Regions from separate parts of the Homo sapiens genome. Here all the other regions are linked to region 1. Evidence: fine-mapped expression QTL. A gene starts in region 1. Each other region holds a variant in brackets. All regions are shown on one strand. Distances are between the middles of the regions. Region 1 holds the start of PON1 (paraoxonase 1). Region 2 has its middle 39 kb from the start of DYNC1I1. Region 3 holds the start of LOC124901848 (small nucleolar RNA U13).

What was found. PIP is the estimated chance that this variant, and not a neighbour inherited with it, causes the effect.
Region 2: its variant is fine-mapped to the expression of PON1 in anterior cingulate cortex (GTEx, PIP 0.95).
Region 3: its variant is fine-mapped to the expression of PON1 in testis (GTEx, PIP above 0.99).

What each region holds. Positions count from the first base shown.
Region 1 is chr7:95,319,577-95,327,754 of GRCh38, reverse strand. PON1 (paraoxonase 1) reads left to right here and starts at 3,223. Exons shown (of 9, transcript NM_000446.7): 1 at 3,223-3,353. The coding sequence starts at 3,280. RefSeq lists a silencer at 3,100-3,279.
Region 2 is chr7:95,729,566-95,737,758 of GRCh38, reverse strand. No RefSeq gene overlaps it. Among named protein-coding and RNA genes, the nearest start is that of DYNC1I1, 39 kb to the left of the region's middle. The variant GACAA/A (reference allele first, on the strand shown) is at 3,771.
Region 3 is chr7:95,273,635-95,281,827 of GRCh38, reverse strand. It overlaps PPP1R9A (protein phosphatase 1 regulatory subunit 9A), which reads right to left. Exons shown (of 20, transcript NM_001166160.2): 15 at 7,842-7,929; 16 at 7,660-7,743. It overlaps LOC124901848 (small nucleolar RNA U13), which reads right to left and starts at 5,242; the gene lies at 5,144-5,242. The variant T/C (reference allele first, on the strand shown) is at 4,342.

The sequences.
Region 1 (8,178 bases):
GTGTGTGTACCGAATGGTACAAAAGCTAATGTTGCTGCAACGTTATGCTGAGTGAATTATAAGAAATTAGGTCAGATGATAAGCACAGCCCAGATCTTGTGGGGCCTTTCAGGCCACAATAAGAAAATAAAATGAGAAGCCACAAGAGGGAGGATTTTAAGCATGGAAATGATATAATCTGATTTACATTTTTAAAGGATTACGTGGGCCTTGGTAAGAAGAATGGATTTGTGGGGAGGGTGATTAGGGAGAGAACAATGGAGAATCTGTTCTAGCCTGGAGATGATAGCAGCCTGAACCAGAGTAATGGCAGTGGAAATGGGGAAAATTGGGTTGATTCAAGATTATTTGAAAGTTGTAGTGGTTTCAAAGAGCTATCTATACATTCTTTGATATGTGGGCTAGGCATTTTTGCACTGCTATAAACACCTGAGGCTGGGTAATTTATATAAAAAAAGTTTTAATTGGTTCATGGTTCTGTAGGCTGTACAGGAAGCATGGTGTCAACATCTGCTCAGGTTCTGGTGAGGACCTCAGGAAGCTTAAAATCATGGGGGAAGGTGATGGGCATCACTAGCATGTCACATGGCAAGAGAGGGAGTGGGGGTGGGGGGAGGTGCTATAGTCTTTTAAACAACCAAATCTCACGTGAACTCAGAGCAAGAGAACTCACTCATTACCATGAGGATGGCACCAAGACAATTCAGAGGGATCTGCCACCATGACCCAACACCTCCTACCCTGTCCCACCTCCACCATTGGGGATCACATTTCAGCATGAGATTTGGAGGGGACAAACATCCAAACCATATCAATATGCCTCAAGGCATATGAAGGGGAGCCTCAAAAGGTGAAGTTTAATTCTTCTCACCTTGAATGTAAACTGGAGTTAGCAGTTTGCATCTAACAAACAGAATATGACAGAAGTTAGGGGATGTCATTTCAGAAGTTAGGTTAATAAAAGATTGTGGCATCCATTTTGGAGGCATGCTATCTCACTCTTTCAGATTGCTCATTCTAGTGAAAGTCAGCTACCTTGTTCTGTTGTAGTTCTGTAGAGAGGCCCACGTATCAAGGGACTGAAGTATCAAGGGACTGAAGTCTCTAAAGAGCTGTGTGAGTAATCTTGGAGGCTGATCTCACCTCCTTCACCCACTCCAGTTGAGCCTTCAGATAAGATGGCAATTCACACTGACAGCTCAGCTGCTAACTCATGAGAGACCTTGAGCCAGAGGTATCTAGCTGTGCCATGCCTGAATTCCTGACCCACAGAAATGATGAGATAATAAATGTTTGTTGTTTTTAATGGTGAGACTTTAGTATAATTTGTTATGCAGCATACGATAACTAATACAAAATAGAGCCTATAGGACTGACTGATCTGTTTGGTGCAAGAGGGTGTGAGGAAAAGAGATGGATGAAAGAAGATATGTAGATTTTGGACTTGAGCAACTGGATGGTAGTGATGCCATTTATTGAAGTGTGAGTTTGGGCAGGGGGGATTAAGAGTTTTCCTTTGGACACATTTTGAAAAGACTGTTAAACACCCCAGTGGGCATGTCAACCAGGTAGCCTGCTGGGCCCTGCCCAAATTCCTTATGCACTGTTTATGAGCATAAGAAAATGATTGTTTGGTTTAGCAGCTAACCTTGTGAAATATCTCCAATCTTCCATTCTCACCTTAACCCATTCTAATATGGTTTGTGTTCTTTTGACTCGTGTAGAATTTGTTCTTATTAAACCACCTATTGTATCCATGTTATCTAATTCAGTAGTTACTTCTCTGCCATAAGCATACTCAACTCATAGCCACATTGGACACAGATCATCATTCCCCCTCTTTTCGAATACTCTTCTCTTTTGGATTCATTGGTTCTACTTCTTAGGTAGATTCTTCTGCTCCACCTGGTGTTAACCAGGGTGGCTTAGCCAGTGGTATTCAGTTGGTGGCCAGGCTGTGGTGGCTGGGCTTGTCTAATAGCCCACTTCATTCATTTCTGCTTCCTTGGTGCCGATGGTTAAGAGGTTGGCTTCAGCTGACCACTTTCCCTCTCCATATGTTCATGGCCTTTCATGTGAATGCTCCAGTGGAGTGGTCAGGTTTTTTACATAGTAGCTCAAGGCTTAAGAGCAAGTGTTCAGAAGGAGCAGAGAGAGAGGGCAGTAGTTACAATGTGAGGCCAAAGAAGCTTCCCCCCAGAAAGCTAAAGGTGATAAGTAAAGCATGTTGGTATTGGCTGGCAATATTCCACAAGAGATGAAAGGACAGATATTGCAGAAGAGAGAAGGTATAACTGGGACCAAAAGCCTTGAGAAGGAAAGAGACATGGAGCAAATCATTCACAGTAACAGCAGACAGCAGAGAAGAGAGACATGGTTGTACAGAGGCACCTCCTTTGGGTCTTTACTCAAATGCCCCATTATCAGTGAGAACTTCTCTGACTGCTATTCTTCAGCAGAGGGTATTCCTTATCCCCTTTCTTGCTTTATGTGTTTTCTCCATAACATATGTGCATATCCATAACACACACATGCATCACCTAGAGCATTATATATGCCACAGTGACATGTTTTGCTGATTTCTCAATTGACTCCCCCCATTGGAATGAACGTAAGCTTGAGGAAGACGTTTTGTCCTGTTCTGTAGCATCTAGAACAGCGCCTGGCACATAGTAGGTACTCAATAAATGCCAGCTGCATGAGGAAATGAATGAGCTGTGTGGGGGATGTACTTGAGTGAACTCTAAAGTCAGAGTGGTGTTGAGAGAAAAATGCTTGAAATCCAGATGTTGGAAGGTGACACAGAGTAGTAGCCTGGTGAGAACAGTTAGATCTTAGGGGTTCCTACTACAGCCCTCCCTTCCGCACCTTTTTGGCTGTCACCATGATCAAGCTACTGAATCTCTCTGAGACGCAAGGACCGGGATGGCACAAAGTGAGTGCTCACCAAAGCTTGACTGTCCTTTCCCATGGCAATTTACTTCAGCTTGTTTGATTTCCCCTCCCCGACTGGACTAGGCACCTATTCTCTGTCTTCTCTCTTTACAGTTGGAAGGAGCAAAATGGGACTTTTGGCTGAAAGTGCTGAGCTCCTGCGGTGGGGGCTGACCGCAAGCCACGCCTTCTGTGCACCTGGTCGGCCCAGCTAGCTGCCGACCCGGCGGGGAGGGGCGGGGCGGGCCAATCGGCGCTGCCCCAGCAGGGCTGCGGCTGCAGGCAGGCAGAGCCTCCTAGCCCGTCGGTGTCTGCGCCCATCGATCCCTTTGTCTATCCCCGACCATGGCGAAGCTGATTGCGCTCACCCTCTTGGGGATGGGACTGGCACTCTTCAGGAACCACCAGTCTTCTTACCAGTAAGTTGGGTTGTGGTGAGGGCTGCAGCCTTCGTCCTCCTCACTCCCTGCCAGCTCCACGAGCCCCCAGAAAGTTGGGTCCAGGCTGTTAACAGAACATTTACAAGCAGGTGCTAGATGCACACTCTGCGGGGGTTTCATAAATGTTTGTCCAGCCGTCATGTGTCACTTGAAAACAAACTCTTGCTCATGGCCTGAGACATGGGATAAGGAGGCAATTGCCAGGGGTGTGAGTGCCCAGGTTGTCAGCATACACGAATTAATTTTTCATGAAGATTTGTGTGCCCTGGCTACAGATTCACTTCTCAACCTGGAAAGAAACAAACTAACCTGGCTGGGGGTTCTCCTGATATTTTGTGTATTAGAGAAAGGAGCCCCTGTCGCTTCTGCGCCTTGACTGCCTGGCCATGGCAAACCTTCCAGGCTTGAAGATTCTCAAATTGAGGCTACTGAGGGCCACAGCAAAACTGCGTGTGGACCCGAGCAGGTGGAGCTAACGTGTGCTGTGATGGTTCGCTTCAGTGGGGGCAGGCGGGGAAGAGGGAACCCTGGAGCCAGCATCTGATGTCCTGGGGTTTAGCTCTGCCCCATGAGTATGCGATTTGGGCAAATCACTTTACATCTCTAACCTTAGCTGCTTCAGTAAACTGGAAATAGTAATACACACTGCCTGCGACAGAGTAGCTATTCAATAAATGTTAGTTCCCTGCTTCCCTTTAAAGTATTTAATAAAGGGTTAAGTGCTATACAAGGGGGGTGGGGATATTTTAAGAATGTATCAAAAGTTTCATAACTTTTAACAGGAGTTCAAAGTCTACAGATCATCCTAGTCTCTAAGGCTTAGTCAACAATGCCTTATTTACTTTAAAGTAAAACCTAATAAAAATTAAATATAAAAAAATTATATGAGCTTATGGACTAATTAGAAGCTTACATTCAGAATGGGTTTTTACTATTTATTGTGGATGTTTTTCTAATTTTTTTAAGTTACAGAGTGCAGAAAAAAAGTAAGAAGCAGTTGGTATTCTTGGCTTTTAAATCATGTAAAAATTACAGTTTGTGAGTTTTTATTAATCACAGTGCTGGTGGCTGCCAAAGGAGATTATAGGTATAGATAAAAATATATAGATAAAGGATGGGTTGCTGAGCCTCCTGGAGTGACCCAGACAGAGGAAGGAAGGGAAATTTTACCCACTGTTGGAAACCCCTAAAACCTAGCTACTCAACTGGGTCTGGGGACCAGATGCCTGAGCATCACCTAGGGGCTCCCTGTACAGGCAGAATCTCAAGCCCTACCCCACACTATTGAATCAGAACCAGCGTCATGGAACAAACTCCCTGGGGGATTAGAGATCATGAATCTGCCCCAGGGAGAGAAGGCAAGAGATGATATCATGAGGCCTGCATCAGGAGCAAGCCAAATCCCCAGGATAGATGCATCCTTTTTTCTTCAGACTTGGAGTGTATGTGTGTGCGGCTCACAGGAAGCTATATATGCCTGGGCTGGAGGGAACTTAAGGAAGCACACAAGGGATGCCTCAAGAGATTTCTGAGTTTCCCAGGTGGGAGCAGTACAGAGAAAAGAACTGAGAGAGTTCCCCTAGACCACGAGTCTCCCACCCACGAGTCTCCCACCTTTGTAGTCGGCTGTATGTGCCGCACAAGTCCAGGGAATGCCTTGGATGATGGTAGAAACAGCTCCCCTCCCCTACCCCAACTTGGGCTATGGAATGTTGCAGCATCTGTATGGCAACTTCCTTGTCCCTACATTGCTAATTGCAATACGTGAGTCCACTGAGTTTCCCTTCTCAGAAGGAAACCACAAAGCTAACGTTGGGCCTCTCGATGCATTTCTGCCATTCCATGCTTACTGTAGGCAACACACAGTTGTGGGAAGAGAGTAGTTGTGGATTCCTGATGACCTGGGTTAGATATCATTTCTGCAACTTTCAAGTTATTTTACCACTTTATTCCAGAAAAGTTCCAGCCAGTTTCTCCACCCGAAAATTAGGGGATAATAATACATATTACAGCATATATATATATATATACACACACACACACACACACATACATATATTTATATTTATATAAAACATATAAATAAAACTAAGTATATATATATATATAAAAATCAGGCATATAGCAGATGTCCTGTAAACGTTAGCTTTTATAGCTGTCATATGTGATCTCAAAAATATAGAGTGATACTTGAATATGTATTATAATCATACTTCATTGAAAGTCTGAGATAAGGACAAATAATCCTCCAACCCTCCAGTCTCCCCTATGAATGCAACCAACACCATCTTCTCAGTCTGATGTACTTGCCTAGTATCTCCACAAAACACTTCAGTGGACATCTGCAGAGTACCTTCTCTTTGCAAACGTTGTGTTTCTGCTGGAGGTTATAGGAATGAATAGGTTGCAGTATTCACTCACCAATTTTAAAGTCTACTGGGAGCAAAAGAACAAAAACTGACAGCTGTGAAACTGACAACTATGACAACTATGGTAAGAAAGTTGACAGATGTATATGTGAAGGTTCCTGAGGGTAAACTAAGGAGTTATTAATCCCAATGCAGAAGACTGGAGAAGCTACAAAGCATCATGAGTAGGGGTCTTTCCAGTGGGTAATGGGCTAAAGAGCATTCTAGGTGAAGGGAAAAGTGTGAGCAAATAAAAAGAGGTATGAAAGAAATACAGGGAAGAGTCCTTAGTATCATGACACTTGATTTCAAATCCCAACTCTACCCTCTTAAATAAGCAACCACATGCAATTTACTCAGCCTCTCAGTGCCTCCATTTCCTTACCTACAAAACAGGGTAAATATTCATCTTTTTCTCAAAGGTGGCTAAAAAGATTAAATGAGGAAGTATGTGTGAGAGCCCTTATTGGAGCTTGGCACATAGTAGGCCATGAAAAGCAATTTGAATGAATGAGGCGTGTGTAGTAGCAGAAAATAGACTGATTAGAGTGAATTTGGCCCCAAGAAGAGTTTGAGAATCGATACGGATTTCTTAATGCCTAGGCAAAGATCTCTGCTTTTTTCTGCGAGCAGCCAGCATGTATTTTCACCGAATACTTCTGCCTTGGTTTGGATGTTCGTCCTCTCCAAACCTCGTATTTGATCTCTAATGTTGGAGGTGGGGCCCAATGGGAGGTGTTTGGGTCATGAAGATGGATCCCTCATGAATAGATTAATGACCTCCTTGGGAGTGAGTGAATTCTCACTCTATTCATTTCGAGAGAGCTGGTTGATTGAAAAGAGCCTGGTACCTCTCCCCTCTCTTACATTCTCTCTCATCCCATGATCTCTGTGAGTACTGGCTTCTCTTCATCTTCTGCAATGAGTGGAAGCAGCCAGAGCCCCTCACCAGATGCAGATACCCAATCCTGAACTTTCTAACCATCCAGAATCATAAGCCAAATAAACCTTTTTTCTTTATCAGTTGCTTAGCCTCAGATGTTCCTTTAGAGTGACACAAAGCAGACTCAGACAAGTTCACAGCAAAGGCTGTATGGTTTCTGCGCAGAGTTCAGAGTCTAGTGAATCAGAGATATATCTCAGACATTGACCCTTATCTCTTAGGCCCAGAACATTTGGACTTAAGCCTTTGACAAGATATTTCCTAATAAATTGAAAATGAGGTAGAAAAAATATGAGTTGGATGATAATAACACAGGTGGGTCAATTTTCAGGTGCATCTTCCAGCTTTTAAGCAGTGTTCTCTGTAGATTTTGCCTGGTCAGAGAGCTAAATGTGAGCTTTGTGTTCATACTTGAATTCCAATCCCTGCTCAGCCACTTTATAACTCTGTGGCCTTAGAAAGCCACTTAATCTTGGTCAACTATAACTTAGGGAAAATAACACCTCACGGAGGTGTTTGAGGATTAAACGCGGGCATATACGGTACCTGAACTATAGTAGTAATGATTATCCTGTTGAGATATGACATGTTTGGGCCACAAATTGGAACCCAAATCAACAAGTGCTGACTTAATGCCCCCTTGCCCACCCTGGGCTCCCTTTAACTGTGATTATTCTATGTTTTCCAGGCTAGAGATCATCTTCTATGAGAGAGAAGCCTGAATTAGAATAGGAGCTGACCAGTTCTGCCTTTCTCCATCTTTTGTGAACCCATATGTTTAGTGACCCTTGTGAGTCAGGCAGCATGAGTATTCTTCCCATTGGTTTTGAGTCTAAGAAAAGTGAATTTGACTATCCTTGGTGTTTTTCACAAGTCTTGGCCCATTCAGTGATTTTATGTCCTTGAATCTCTCCTTCCATGCCAGTCTTTGTGTTGTCCTCGGTTATGACCATCACCCTTAACATCTTGTACCTGCCCTTTGGTTCCTTGAGGGCATGCTACAAATATTCACTACACTTTCCCTAGACCAGAGTTTTTTCAAATGGTGGGTAACAAAGTCAATTTAGTAAATAATTACCAACATTTAAAAATAAATAAAACAGAATTGAACAGAAAAGTTATGAATGTATGACACAGATTAGGATGAGTATTGTTTTGTGAAGCTTGATTCAGATGTGTATGTGTATGTGTGTGCATGTGCTGGGTGTTCGCACCATATAAAATACTTTTCCTACTGTGAGTCTCTGTCTGAAAAGTTTGTAAGCCACTGCTTTATCACTTCCCCTTTTATTTCCTTATTGTCAATATTTGCAATTATAATGTCAGATTTTCATTTTGAAAATACCTTTCCCTTTCTTAGGTTATGGGACAGATTCCAACTTTCCTTTGAAGCCTGCTTTCTAAGTTCACATCTATCAATCAGGAAACCACAGTCTCCTCACAGTCCAAGCCT
Region 2 (8,193 bases), 410 kb before region 1:
AAAGAATGACTGACTTTATATGCACCCAGATTAAAACTGGCATGATGTTCTTGGTCCCAGTTCTGGGAAAATGCCTGCAGCTTTTCCCGGTGTCTTTCCCTCACAGCATCTCCAAGACTCTCCCCAAATTACCTCAAGGGCTTGGGAGAAGCAAAGTGCTATCCCTAGGCCTGGGTTGCTTGGATCTCCAATAGAATGGTGAGTCACAGAGGGAGGCTCTCTGCCTCTCTCACATACTGAGGCTTCACTCACTTTTATCACCTAGATGCCACCACAGGGCTAACTGCCCACATACTCCTCCCTGGGATCTGGGATGTCCTTAATGATTCTGGTGGATTCCCATATTCCTTCTTGAATTAAAGCTCACAGAGAGATTTGGAATGAGTAGATGGAGCAAGATGACCAAATCATCCAGCAATCATCCCTCCCACAAGAACACCAAATTGAACAGCTATGCACACAAAAAAGCACCTTCATAAGAATCAAAACACCAGGTGAGCAATCACAGTGCCTGGTTTTAACATCATATTAAGGAAAGATGCACTGAGAGGGTAGGAAAGACACTCTTGAAATGCCTATCCACCCCTCCCTAATCACCTGGTAGCAGCTATATAGTATGGAGAGAAAATTTGTGCCCTTGGGGGAAGGAGAACCCAGTGACTGTGGGACTTTGCATTGCAACTCAAATTTCTCTGTCACGGAGGAAAGCAACATGGGGCAGAATTCAGCCAGCACCCACGAGGGAGCATTCAGATCTGCCTTACCCCAGAGGCAAGTCACCTGTTTTAGTGGTCAGAACCCGAGTTCCAGCAAGCCCTTCCACCATGGGCTAAAGTGCTCTGAGGTCCTAAATAAACTTCAAAGGCAGTCTAGGCAACGAGGACTCCAATTCCTGGCTAAGTCCTGGTTGGTGCTGTGTTGGGCTGGGCTCAAAGCCAGAGGATTTGGGTGCACACAACCTAGTGAGATATCAGCTGGAGTGGCCAAGGGAGTACTGTTGTCACCCCTTTCCCAACCCTGGGCAGCTTAGCTCACAACTCTGGGAGAGACTCCTTCCCTCTGCTTGAATAGAGGAGAGGGGAAAGTAAAGAGGACTTTGCTTGTAGCTGGGGTACAAATTCAGCCACAGTGGAGTAGGGCACCCCAAATCCTCTGGCTCCTGGGGTTCTCAATTCTAGGCCTAGGCTCCTGGATGGCATTTCTGGACTTGCCCTAGGCCAGAGCAGAGCCCACTGCCCTGAAGGGAGAGACCTAGGTCTGGCAGCATTCACCACAAGCAGACTGAAGAGCCCTTGGGGCTTGAATGAACATCAGCAGTAGCCAGGCAGTACTTGCTGTGAGCCTGGGGTGGTGGTAGCCATGGGGAGAGACTCCTCTGCTTGAGGAAAAGGGAGGAAAGAGGGAAAAATACTTTGTCTTGCAGCTTGGGTGCTAGCTCAGCCACAGTAGAATAGAGCACCAGTTAGATTCTTAAGGTTTCCCCCTCCAGGCCCTGGCTCCCAGACCAGCATCTCTGAACCTGAGTGGGGCTAGAGCAACTCACTGCACTGAAGGGGGAAGAACACAAGCTTGGTTGGATTTGCCACTGATGACTGCAGAGCCCTTGGGCCTTGAGTGAACATAAGTGGTAGCCAGGCAGTGATGACAGTAGGCTTTGGGTGAGACCCAGAGCTGCCATACAATCCAGCAATCCCACTCCTAGGTATATACCCAAAAGAAAGGAAATCTGTCTATCTAAAAAATATCTGCACTCCCATGTTAATTCCAGCACTATTCACAATAGCCAAGATTTGGAGACAACCTAAGTGTCCATCAACAGACAAATGGGCCAGGCACAGTGGCTCACTTCTGTAATCCCAGCACTTTGGGAAGCCAAGGGGAGCAGATTGCTTGAGCCCAGGTATTTGGAGTTAGCCTGGGCAACATAGTGAGACCCCATCTCTAAAAATAAAATTAAAAATTAAAAAAATTAGCCAGGCATGGTGGCATGAGTCTGTGGTTTTAGCTTCTCAGCAGGCTGATGTAGGAGGATTGCTTGAGCCTGGAAGTTTGAAGCTCCTGTGAGCCATGAACATGCCTAGGGGACAGAGTGAGATCCTGTCTGAAAAACAAACAAAAAGCCAAACAGAGTAATGGAAAAAGAAAATGTGGTACATATACACAATGGAGTACTGTTTAGCTATTAAAGGGAATGAGATTTTGTTATTTGCAACATGGATGGAAGACATTATGTTATGTTAAATAAGCCAAGCAAAGAAAGGCAAACTTCACATGCCCTCATTTATTTGTGGAAGCTCAAAATTCAAACAATTGAATTGATGGAGATAGAGAGTAGAATGATGGTTACTAGAGGCTGAGAAAGGTGGGGTTGGGGTAAGTGGGGATGGTTAATAGGCAAAAGAATATCGTTGGAATGAATAAGATCTAGTATTTGATAGCACAACAGGGTGACTGCAGTCAACAGTAATTTATCGTACATTTAAAAATAACTAAAAGAGTATAACTGGATTCTTTATAGCACAAAAAAGTATAAGTGCTTGAGGTGATGGATACCCCATTGACCCTGATGTGATTATTCTGCATTTTATGCCGGTATCAAAATATCTCATGTACCCCCAATATATATACACCTACTATGTACCCACAAAAAATAAAAAGCTCAAATGTTGAGCTTTATGCACTATCTTGCTATTTCCACATGTCTGAGGCACACTAAAAGTGTCTAACCCACCATCTGGGTATGCTCAAATATAGTTGAAAGAATATACAGACACTTGCCTTTATATAGCTTCTATCATATAGTTGCCATCAGAATTTTTCCTTTGTCACTTTCTCTCCTGTGTATATAAGATGAAATCACAAGTAACTTCCTCACTGATGCAGTCTGGTCAGCCTTTAGGCAGGGGCAAGGAGAGCTGCTGGGTTCTCCTCAGAGTCTAGCACTCTCCATTCCAGTACAGCTGAGGTGCCATTTTTGTGGTGGAGAGGGAAACTTTCTTTACAGAATTTTTTTCAATGTCACCATGTCACTAGACTTGGGACCTTCCAGATTCGATTCCCTCCCATTTGGTGCTCTCTGTCTGCTCCCTCCTCTTCCAAATCCACTGAATCCAAAACTTATAATGTTGTAATTATTGATCTGGGTGGTGGTTATACAAGAGTGTTTACGCTGAGATGATTTATTGAGTTCTGCCCTTATGGTCTGTGCAATGCTCTGTGTACATTTTTAAAGTGTAAAATGAAAATATAAAATTGTTAGCAGTTGCTAATTATGGTGGTGAGAACATATGTGTTTGTCATATTATTCTTTGTACTTTTCTATATCTTTTAAAGTTGCCAAAAGGAAAATTAAAACTCTCTTTCTATATATATTTCCAGATATATGTGGATAACTTTTTAGGAAAATATAATTTTTATGTGACCTTTGTAGCAATAAAAATATAAACAGCCCATATGCCTTAGAAGAAACAGAGACATTTTCAAAGTGCCCTCACAAAGAAAGCATCCACCCCAGATGATTCCTCTAGAAAATTTCACAAAATGTTAAAGATTAGATAGTCCCAATACCACCTAAACTACTACTAAACATAGAAAAGTAAGTAAACTTTTACCTTCTTAATGAAGTAAGTATAATGGGTGATAACTAAGCCTCTTACATATTGTCTACTTTTTTAAATTAGTGTCCTGAATATATTAAGTTCTTGAACATAAATTAATTGTAATTTTCAATTCCCTGATAATTCCTTTTAAAAAAAGCTTTAAAATTGACA[GACAA/A]AGTTGAATGTATCTACCACATACAACATGATGTTTTAAATTATATATACATTGTGAAATGACTAAATCTAGCTAATTAACATATATGCATTATGTTACATAGTTATTATTTTTGTGGTGAGAACACTTTACATCCACTCTCAGCATTTTTCAAGAATGCAATATATTATTAACTATAGTCACTATGTTGTACAATAAAGCTCTTGAATTTATTCCTCCTATCTAACTAAAATTTTGTGTCCTTTGACTAATTCCTTGTTCCCACCCCACCCCAAGTCTGATAATTCTAACATCTGTGTCATAGCTGAGTCTGGTTCTAATGAATGCCTGTCACTGCCACTGTGATTTTTTCTTGCCTTTTGTCATGCCTTATAATTTTCTTTGGAAAGCTAGACATGTTGTATTGGGTTATAGGATCTGGAGTAAACTGACCTTCAGTGTGTGGATTTGGGATTTGTGTTCATCTGGCTAGGAGCTGAGCTATGTTTAATGCTTGCTGTAACTATAGGTGCCAGAGCCTTTGAGTTCCTTTAGTTTCCTTGTTTTTGTATTCCCTTTGCACTTTGGGCTTCCCAAAGTACTCTTCCTCAGAAAGTCTGTGTCTTGTAGCTCCTAACAATTGCCGTCTGCTGTTATTCTACCTCAGCCCTGTTGGTAGGGTGGTAACGTGTAGGGAGGGGAAGCCTTCTATAATCTTATGATTAAATCTCAGTCTTTTAGTGGATGTATGTCTCAAAGCTATGACTTTCACAAGTACTTCTCTAGTGGTAAGGCTTCTTTTTTCCCTCTGCTCCTTACTTCCTTCTCTGGCTATGATGTTCTAGTTTATTTCCCTGAAGCCCAGCCCCCTTAGGTAAGGCAAGAAGGCTGAAGGAAGAATGCCCTTTTCTTAGATGGGATGAGGCTCTGGCAAATTCCCTCCCCTGCAGAGAACTATCTTGTGATGGAGAAGCATGTGAGGATAATTCACAACGAAGAGAATCTTTCCTGGATCTTTGCTATGAGAACCTGATGAAGTTCTGGAGGTAAAACCAATGACAGTGTAGGACACCCCCTAAGACTTTGGCCCCCAAGAGATTTTCACTATTACACTAGTCCACACTCAGCCTCTAGCAATGAGTCAAAATTATCATTTAAGTGTTTCTGACTTTAACGGCCTCTGCTTCACCTAAGCAGATCTCAGCTGTGACTCCCCAGATACACTTGTCTCTCCAGATGTTGGGGTGGCAGTTTGCCACCCATGGTCTTCACTCTAGATGGGTCCAGGAAAAGTGAATGATTTCCAGTGTGTCCGATTTTTTTCTTGAGTTAAGAATGGGGGGCCGGGCGCGGTGGCTCACGCCTGTAATCCCAGCACTTTGGGAGGCCGAGGCGGGTGGATCATGAGGTCAGGAGATCGAGACCATCCTGGCTAACAAGGTGAAACCCCGTCTCTACTAAAAATACAAAAAATTAGCCGGGCGCGGTGGCGGGCGCCTGTAGTCCCAGCTACTCGGGAGGCTGAGGCAGGAGAATGGCGTGAACCCGGGAAGCGGAGCTTGCAGTGAGCCGAGATTGCGCCACTGCAGTCCGCAGTCCGACCTGGGCGACAGAGCGAGACTCCGTCTCAAAAAAAAAAAAAAAAAAAAAGAATGGGAGTGACAACCTCCACGCTCTTTACTTGGTATAGCTAAACCAGAAGTCTCAAAAAGTTATGACAAAAACCTGCAAAATCAACCTCAATGCGCAAGAAAGGAAATAAGAAAAATAAGGGCAGAAATTAGTGAAGTAGACAATGAGTCTCTGACAACTAAAATCAACAAAAAAGGTGGTTTGTTGAAAATTGATAACATCTAATAAGACTAATCAATAAAAGGGAGAAGGCACAAATATAAGAGTATCAGAGCTGGAAAAGGTGGCGTCACTGGAGATTTTCAAGGCAATATAACAGTAAATAAGACTATATCAACATATTAGAAACAATTTTATGCCAATACATATGAACATATAGAAGATATGACCATACTTTTATTAAATACGACTTAACAAAATGGACAGGAGAAATAGATATCTAAACAGACCTACATGGTTAAATATTTACAATTTCTATAATGCAAACTAAATATTAAAGAAACTAAATCACTAATATAAAACCTTCCCCACAAAGAAAACTCCAAACTCTGACAGATATCTAAACAAATTCTGTTTTTAAAAAACAAATAATAAATAGCTTCAATATTTTATAAGTTTTTTCAGTGACATGCAATTAGAGGAGGAAGAATGCATGTCAGATATTGGGCAGCCAGTGGCACGGACAGGATTGACATTTGACAGTCATCTTTGGTTGCCCAGCAAACAGATCCCATTTATATTGTTAAAACCAAACAAGACCGGGCACAGTGGCTCATGCCTGTAATCCCAGCACTTTGGAAGGCTGAAGTGGAAGGATTGCTTAAACCTGGAGTTTGAGACCAGCCTAGGCAACAAAGAGAAACTCAAAAAATAGAAAATAATTAGCTCGGCATGGTGGCACGTACCTATGGTGCCAGCTACTCAGGAGGCTGAGGTGAGGGGATCACTTGAGCCCTGGAGTTTAAGGCTGCAGTGAGCTGTGTTTGCACCACTGCACTCCAGCCTAGGCAACAGAATGAGACCCTCATCTCTAAAAAAATTTAAAAATTTAAATAATAAATAAATAAAAACAAAACGCCACAGCACATGAGTGTTTGTGAGAAGCAGAAATTTAATCCCACTATGAAAATTTAAAGGACACCAGATGTTCTCCTCCTTAACTGGGATTTTGAATGTGGAAGAAGAAACCTGAAAACACAGAGAAAGTTAGAGATAGTTCATGGTGGCGGAGTCAATATGGCACCAGGCACTGGAGTGGGATTCTAACAGATATTCCTGTGGCACAACAGTGGATATGCTGTCTGCTTCCCATACTCCCTGGAGTCTGCCCATTATCTGAGCTAAGGTCTTTAACTTTCCTGTCAAACCTGTGAGCTGCATAATAGCATTGTAATACATTCATTTTCTGGTTAGTTTAGCCAGAGTTCAATGGTACAATCGTCATACATATCCTTAGTACCCAGAGGTGATGTAGCTGAGAAAGTATTAGCTCTTTCCACAACCCGTTTATGAGGTATAACAGAACCTTCTGGAAACCCTCATTAGTTAGTGTTAGTTTCTGCCATTTCTGGAGCAAGGTTCTGGCCTTTAGAAAAGACTCATTTTTTCCTTACTTGAAGCCTCCACTATTTTCTGTCACCTTGAATCTTTCCACTGGGCTCTTTGCCAGACTTCCAGTCTCATGTGGAATGACTGTGAAAGTTTTAGGTTACATAACTCATGGCTGCCGATAGGTAGTACAGCCTTCAGGATGTAAGTCTTTTTCATCCCAAATGACAAGAGACTTGAGACTGGTAATGCAATGAAACATTTACATTTCTGTTTCTCAGGCCTGACCAATCATAAATGCAAAGATGATAGTTTCTAGAGCTGCTATCCATTGCTGCCTATTTATGCTCAATTTAGCAGTGGTAAGGACACTAGTGAGCATTTTATGTTTGTCTATACTATTAGGTCGGTGCAAAAGTAATTGCGATTTTTGCCATTAATTTTAATGGCAAACTTTTAACGGCAAAGTTACTGGCATTAACTTTTAATGGCAAAAACTGCAATCACTTTTGCACAAACCTAGTATAAAAGAGTACTGCATTTCATATAAATCTGAAAATTTAACCCACATATCCTTCTTGACAGCTAAGAATTTTAATTTATGATCTCATTGTCAGACTGAATCAACCTAACTGATGCTATGGTCTCCTTTACTTGGGGGTACTCCTGTTATGATACCACTTCAAGCCTTCCAAGTTGAAATTTATGTGAAATATTATGAGGGCTGAGAAAATCCAATATCCAACACGAGTTCTCAGTATGGTTGCTCACAGGTTTCTTCCCACCTCTCTCTCTCTTAAAGGATCCATAGGACTTCAACACTCTAACCTCAGAAATATTTCCAGGCTGTGGGCTCATCCCCAGTTAAGACACAATGTGTTCCTCATATGTCACAAAGTTGCAGCAGTGCCAACCCTTACAAGGTCAGTTCCAACCCTGCCTTCTTCAGTAGTCTATATACTCTACTCTCCAACATCCTTCTGAGGATATCAGTACTTCCAAACACTTCATTTCTTTCTTCTGCTGAGGGACCTTGGAAATACCCTGAGTCACTGTCTGAGACTGGAAAAATCCTACCAGGCATGATATCTTTCTTCTCATTATTATCTGTATTCATGAGTGGCTGACAACAAACACATATAACACCACTGATTCTAATCTGACAATCTAAATTTGTGTTTTCAATATTCTAAATTAAAAGTACAATTTACTGGTTAAACTTTTGTTCAGTTCATGATAGATTAAAAACAAATCCTAATT
Region 3 (8,193 bases), 46 kb after region 1:
TGGATATTGTTTTAAAGTTTATAAATAGGCCATGATTAATGACAGCATGACAATCTTGTCCTACTCCCAGTGAACAGCCTTTGTAACAATGCTTTTAGAACAATCACTATTACCTTTAAAAGCAAATAGGGACAAAATAAGAATTGTTTTCTACTTGTGGTCATTCCATTGCTTTAGTTGAAAAGGACTTTTGGTAGTCCAAATCCTGTCCAAGCAACATTTGAAAAGAAAAAAATCTGAAGGTCACATCTAATTAAACTCTCTCACAACATTTTCACTGTCAGAAAAATATTCAAGACTAATAATTCCACATGGACCTGTGCATCCAGCACTGAGGAGGGTCTTGAGGCCATGTGGTTCTTACATGTGCGGTGAAGGAGATCACAGAAGCTGGGCCTCTGGTGATACCCAGAGGCTTCCTTTCCCTAGCTTTGCACACCAAGTAATAGACAGGAAGGAGGAAGAGCCAGGCAGAAGGCAATGAGAGGCCACTTCCGAGAAGACACCTACGTCTCTACAGTGGCAAATCACCAGATTCAGGGATATTTTGAAGAATATTTTTCAGTTTCCCATGAGGCTTGGCTGTGCCCCTGCTGAAGTTGTATCCTGTATCTCTCATTCCTCTGTGAGTATCTGTGATTTTAAAACCCCATGAACTGATGTAACCCCTGGGTACTTGCTAGTATCCTTAAAGAACTGAACAGTGAGTGGTATGCTTTCATTTCTCGGACCTAGAGAACATTCATTTAAAAAACGAAATTTTTGCTTTAAAATTACAGACCTATCAGCTTAGCAGACATGCTTTCTAAAATAAATGTCAATTTCCTTCTGAATAAATTGAACTCTTGGGCCCACAATAGAAGCAGAAAGGGTTTGGCAGCAGTTATTCCATGTTGACCACTCTTATAGTCTATTTCACTTTGTGGAGAAATCCATTAGGAATAACATAAAATCCTTCTTTCCTTTCTTATTTGCTTCCTCCCTCCCTTTCTTCTTCTCCTCCTCGTTCCTTCCTTTTCTTTCCTTTTCACCTTCCTTTCTCCCCAAAATCGAGATTGGTAGAAATGAACTCTTGATGAATCTGAAAATAATTTTTCCAGTGGATCAAAATAGGTAGATAGTCTATATTCCCTTCACCTTCTTTTTTAGCTATAATTTACTGGCTTGCTATCATTTTTGGAAAAAAGAGAATCATAAGTCACTCCTAGGAACTGGGAGAAAGAATGGCTTCAAATTCGTCCTCATAATCCAAAGATACCATTTCAGAGGTAGCTGTTTCCTGGCATTTAAATGGTTTATGTAATATCTCTTATAAGTAATGAACTCATTTACATATATCTTGAATCCAGTGTATCCTGGGGCTGGCATCCCAAAATTAAATTGCCAGCTAAACATTCCAAGGTGATCTTTGTTGTTGTCATTCTAACTTTGAATACAGGTGTGTGAAGTATTCAGCATCTAACTGGATGTCATCAAAATATCATTAAGAGTTCAGAAACTGCCAGAACAGATGAAGTATAAAAGAAATACAGAATTTAAGCCCAGGAGTAAAAGAAGTTAATTGAAGAAAATTAGTTGCAACCAGAGGAAGATTGCAGACTTGTATTTACCTAAATCGAATGAAGTAATTCTATAAGGTTCTAACATCCACCAAGGAGTTTGAGGTTGTAAAGCTAGCCTCATCTAAATGGGATCTAGAGACCCTAATGGATAACAGCTGTGAGAAACATGTCCATCTAAAGCTCAGGGCCAACCCCCGCCCCCTACTCAGACATATCCTGCTCCCAGATCCTGAGTTCTGATCTAATCAATAATAGTTCATCTGAGATGGTCACTGTAGTGTTCAACTCTGAATCATTCGAGATGGTGAAACTATTCCCTTAATGAGTCTTCCCCATACTGGAGGGGTTTAAAATGAAATAGAAGAGGATCACGTAAATAAAATCCATACTATCAAAATCTAAATGCTAAGTTTAAGAATAACAGATATATTGCTTAGGTGTTTAAGAAAATTTGTATGAATAGAAATCTGAAAGAGAAATGTGTCCACTGATTCTACCTTAAAATGTTAAACTCATTTTAATGATCTAAACTCATTTTAAATTTGAGTTTTTAACAAACACACAATATATTAAGCACTTTGATAACTATATTGGGACGTTTAGAGTCACTACAGTTAAACAGTAACTTATTAGATTTTCAAGAGCTTTTTTAAGTATGGAAAAGTGTTTGCCTGTTAAGAATGTAAGTTTGTCAGGCTTCAGGCATTTGAAATACTGTACTTAAAAAGAAAACTGAATATTAAATTGATAAATGCAGCTAAAAATGGGCTAGACAGTTATGGGGAATAAGTCCGATCTACTAGGGCTAAGCTGACATTATTCAAAGGTCTCCATGAAAATGACTACATTCACTGGGCCAGGCTTAGGCAGAGATGGGGTGTTTTTCTACTCACACACATGTGCTCATCTCCATCAATTCTTCTAAAAGGTGTGTTTCCAGCCAGCTCAGATGATTCTTAAGCAGGGGTTTTGCTCTTACTCAGCAACAGGGGCAGAGTGGACCCTCCAGGTACTTGTCATAGGATATAATTTCAAACTCACTGTCATGCCATGATTTATCTAAAGCCTCTTTGAGAGAAATAGCCTATGAAGTACAGCCTGAAGTATAATCCATATAGCCCATTCATTCTTCAAGATATAACAAAAGTCATCCTTGGATGAACAAGACTGCCAGCAAAATACGCAAGAAGAATGTCATTTTGTATCCTTCCCATCAAACCTGCTTTAATAAACAATGATAACAATAGACATTTTTATTTAAGGATTTGAAATGTACTTCAATGTGACCATCTTAATCCTCCTAATAACATGAAGAAGTATGTGAGGGGCGGGTGTGTGTGTGTGTGTCTATGTCTCCATTTTACAGATGAGAAAACTGAGGTACAGAAAGGTTAAGAAACCTGTCCAAGAAGTAAGTGGCAGAGTTGGGATTTCAACCCAGGCTTTTAACCATATTGACATTGTGTTTTTGGCTTTCACTGGAAGGTCACTCTTATACTTACTATGAAGATGTTATTGAAGATGTTGTATTTTAAGTAACAATTTTACTTACTTTTTAATCTAACTTTTCCCTATTCAATTTACTTTTTAATAAATTATATTGTTGTAGCATATGTACTTTTGTATGTAAACAAATTATTTTGGAATAACGAGGAGTAGAATATAAATAAGAAAATAAACAATAAATGAATAGACCAACTGAATAATGGGGTAGAAATTAAAGGAAGATTTGTTTTTCATGGAATCCTACAGATCAACACTATCCAAAAAGAAATATAAATGAACCACATTGTAAACTAAAATTTTCTAGTAGCACCATGGGAAAAAAAGAGGTAAAATAATTTTAACAATAATACATTTTATTTACCCTCCAAACCCAAAATATTATTTTGACATGTAATCAATATTATAATATTATGAAGATATTTTATGTTCTTTTTGTTCATACTAAGTCTTTGAGTCCAGCATTCATTATTCTCCTACACATATCCCAATATAGACTAGCCTTATCTGACTAGAGGCAACCATACTGGACAGTGTACGCAGAGGTGAATGGGAAGTCAGAGCCATGCAGTGTCAGCCCAATCCACTTATTTTTTGGTAGGAAACCAAGGTCCCAGGAATTCAGAGACTTGCCTAATGGAAAAGTAAGGACTACTACCTTGGATTCCAGCTCAGTGTTGTTTCTGTTGTTCACACTTTCTACTTGAATGCAAATTCATTTCCATAGAAGACTGCCATCTCCTTTCCTTATCATTTTCTCAACATACTATCACCTAGCCCCATCTGAGATACACACATCTCCCCATCTGAGATACACACATCTCACAGAGTTTTCCATTCCGTGACTACACTGGAAACTTATCTACAGAGCTCCAAAGTAGATGCTCCACTGACATCAGTGGCTACTTACTCCAGAATACAGAATAGGATTTTATTTTACCCTTTGGTATACATTTTAAGGGGTGAACAAGCTCTGACAACTAAATGTTTCCTGCTTTTGTTATCTGCTATGCTGCCTGTTTAAAATCAGAATGTTGGCTGGGTGTAGTGGCTTGTGCCTATAATCCCAGCACTTTGGGAAGCTGAGGTGGGAGAACTGCTTGAGCCCAGGAGTTCAACAACAGCCTGGGCAACATAGCAAGACCCCACCTCTACAATTTTTTTTTTAAGCTGGACATGGTGGCACACACCTGTAGTCCCAGGTACTCAGAAGGCTGAGCTGAGAGGATCACTTGAGCCCAGGAGGTCAAGGCTGCAATGAGCTGTGATTGTGCCA[T/C]AGTCCTCCAGCCTGGGCAACAGAGTGAGACACTGTCTCAAACAAACAAACAAACAAACAAAAAGACAATGCCACTGAGCACATATTTGAAAAGGGATGGAACCAAGTCATATTTCTTTGTTGGGTTTATTTGTTTATTATTATTAGCCTCATCCATTTTCTCTAGTTGTCTCATGTCGCGCATGTATCTGAGTCATTATGTATCCACAGAAACACAACAAGGTAAACTCTTTATAGAGAGGAAAAAACTAAAACCAAGACCAAATAGTGAAAGTCTTGCCTCTTTAAAATCTAACAGCCATAGGTTATAGCTGACCAATGATCTTATCAGAATCTTAGCCTAATAAGAATTGGATGAAATGCTTCAAAAAGATAACATTACTCAGTCCAAGGATCCTTCCCTCCTTTTTCTGAGGAAGTCTCCCAGGGTTGGTGAGTGTATTCCCAGTTGCCCACTACAATCATAGTGCGACCCTGCAGCTGATGGTGCTTACAGCCCACAGACTTTCAGGACCCTGAGAATCCAACTCAATTGCATTAAGCTCCTACTGGGCAGCAATTCTGTTCTTCCTGGGATAGGTTTTATAAGGTTCTGTACCCATTATCAATCTATACAGAAGAATATAGCTGTCCACAGATTTTATTAGTGTTAACCAATTACTATAGCAGCTCAAAATTTTTTTTCTTGCAAGAGAAAAGTGTCCTTCTTCTTTCCTTGTTCTTCTATTCCAATTATATGAATTCCTTTCCATCCTGCCAAAATTCTACTATAATTACTAATAATTATAAAACTATGATTTTATTTTTTTTGGGTATGCCAATGTCATAACAAGGTTTGAGGGAGGCCATCTCACACATGCCTGTGAACACCCAATCATCACACTTAGGAACTACAAAAGATCAAAATCATGATTCTAATTAGAAACTAGTTTGTAGTGTGGGTATGTGTACAATAATTTCTGACTGCTGAATCAGGGGGACTCCAGAGTTTTAAAAATACAGTGGTGGCGAGGCAGCCAATCTAGAAGTCTAGCTGTGGGTTCAAAGCAGGCATCGACTGTGGTGAAGCAGTGTGCTGATGGCCACCTGCCCTTGACAAGCTGTGGTTTTGCCTATAGTGAGGTGGGCAGGCACTCACCAACACAATCAAGATTGGCTTGACTTTCATTTGTGATTTATACAAGGAGGTGAATCATCTCTGGCTACTATGGCAAAATTCCATCAAACACCCTCCCCCTTTCTGGCTGCAGGTGCTCACATCCCTCTCAGGTGGTGCCTCAAAGATGAGAGGGAGTGACTGTCTTCAAAGCCCAGAGACCAAAGGAAGGACAGTGTCATTTTCAGTATCTGAGTTTCTCTCCCATCATGTATTTATGCATCTCTTTCTCCCCTAAACGGTTTCATTATTTGTTTTTTTCCATGAGTATGTTTGATTTTATTTTTCTATTCTTAATTTTAACACACAAAGTGGATCATTCTCACTCCCGAACCACACAAAGTTAAACTACTTTCGAGATGCATATAGCCTCAGATTTACCTTTATTTTCCTGAGATTGTTGTCCTCATTCTGAGAGCATTCTACCCTTTTCCAATGTACAGTATAAAGGAAAGCCACACTAACAAAGATAATTAATTTGGGAATTCTCTCTCCTCATCTCCCGCCCATTATGCTCCTTTAATGCTCCTTTAATTCCAAGAAGAAGGTACAATTTCTCACCAAGGTATATGTCAGAAAAGAGAAAAAAGAAAAGTAAACAGCAGTGGACAACCCATGAAGTGGAGAAGTGGTCCTTGCATGATTTTATAGTATTTTATTTTTAGTGTGTTTCTTCCTTAGTCTATGATATTGAGATTATTTCCAAATTTTATAAAGAAATTTAAGCATCATTAGATGCATAAGTAACTGAAGGTGGCATAGTATGTTGGAAAAACATCTACACAGGAGGAGCAAGCCCCAGGTTGACATTAACTGCCTGCTGCATAACCCTGGGCAAATCAATTAAATTCTATGAAGGTAAAGTTCTTCATCAATAAAGTATGGTATTATTATCTACTCTCCCAATCTTTTTTTTTTTTTTTTTTTGAGACGGAGTCTCGCTCTATCGCCCAGGAGTGCAGTGGTGCGATCTTGGCTCACTCAAACCTCCGCCTCCCGGGTTCAAGCAATTCTCCTGCCTCAGCCTCCCGAGTAGCTGGGATTACAGGTGTGCGCCACCACGCCTGGCTAATTTTTGTATTTTTGGTAGAGACGGGGTTTCGCCATGTTGGCCGGGCTGGTCTCAAACTCCTGACCTCAGGTGATCCACCCGCCTTGGCCTCCCAAAGTGCTGGGATTACAGGTGTGGGCCACCAAGCCTTGCCATCCTCTCAATCCTATAAGGATCAAATGAAATGATAAATATAAAACTACTTTGTAACTTGCAAATAATAATAAGGTAACAGTAATGGCAATAGCAGCAAATTGTTATCTTTATTATTCTTTGAATACCTCCTACATGCCAAGTATCATTTTAAATGTTTTACATGAAAACTCATTGAATCCTTACACTGACCTTATGTAAAAGGTACTGTTATTACTCTCATTTTACATGAGGAAATGAAGGCACAGAGGGTAACTCACTTGCCCAAGATTTAAAAGTTATAAGTAGGAGAGCCATGATTCAAATCCAGGCAGCTGGGCTTCAGAGCTTGATGCTTTACTGACTCCCTATACAAATCTCAGCTTAAAATTATATAATCTCAGAAAACAACTGGGAAAATTTGATAACATGCTGTTCAAAGCTCGCTCTTTATGGGAAGGTCTTTACTGAAGACTAAGCATAGTTGACAGTGCCCACAAAATCAATTAAATAGCCAAGTGCAGCAAAAGATGGTGGTCACTCCTACATACATGTGGACAAGACAATCTTGAATGTCAACAAGGTACTTAAATGCAAAATGATTATCCTTTTAGACTTAATACAATGCACTAGCATTGTGGGTAGCCAGGCAAAAAATCTGAAGTATCACATAAATATATTTGATATTTCTGAAGTATCACATAGATATATTTGTGCTGAATTTAGATAAACACTTATTGAAATGGTTCATGTGGCCATAATTCTGCAATTAAGAACCAATGGATATGCCCAAGGCTAGATGGAGGCTATAATTGGAGTAAGACCAATATAAACTAATTGTGCAATTTTTCTTCCATCTCAATTCTTGGCATATCACTTTAGCTCAAAGATACTGACCACTGATTTTGGTTAACAATAGAAGAGGGGGCCAGAAAGTTTAGGTATAGAAATACACGTGTTCTTAATCACACAACCGTACCTGCTACCTGCAGAAAACCTACTGGCTTCTTTTTCTTTTTCTTTCCACTTCTTTCCCTTGCTGGAATTCCTTCGCAAAGGCGCCCTGTAATGATAGTAAGCAGTCAGAAAGGGGAAGCTGAAATTTTCTCTTTCAATCCTCCTTTTACAGAGGGCTTTCTTTTTACATCGTGAAGTGCTTACCCCAGATCCACAAACTTCCGCTTAATTTTTCCTCCTTGCACCGCCAATGAACTGGATGCCCTTAGTGATTTGGGATCTTTGGCATCATCTAGGATATACACATTTGTGAAAAAGATCAATTATTATTATTTTTAAAGTCACAATTCAAAAGTCAATGCATCTCTGAATCTAAGGGCTTTGCCTAAATTCCTAATTGTAAAATAAATAATCAATGCCTTCTTATACGACCTAGGAGACACAGTTACATTGAGGAACTCGCAGTTAAGCAGGGGAGGTCCTCTATAGGACAGAGGCTCAACATTCATCACAAAGAGTTTTAGCTTCAACTGCATGGGAATGAACAAGGGAGAAT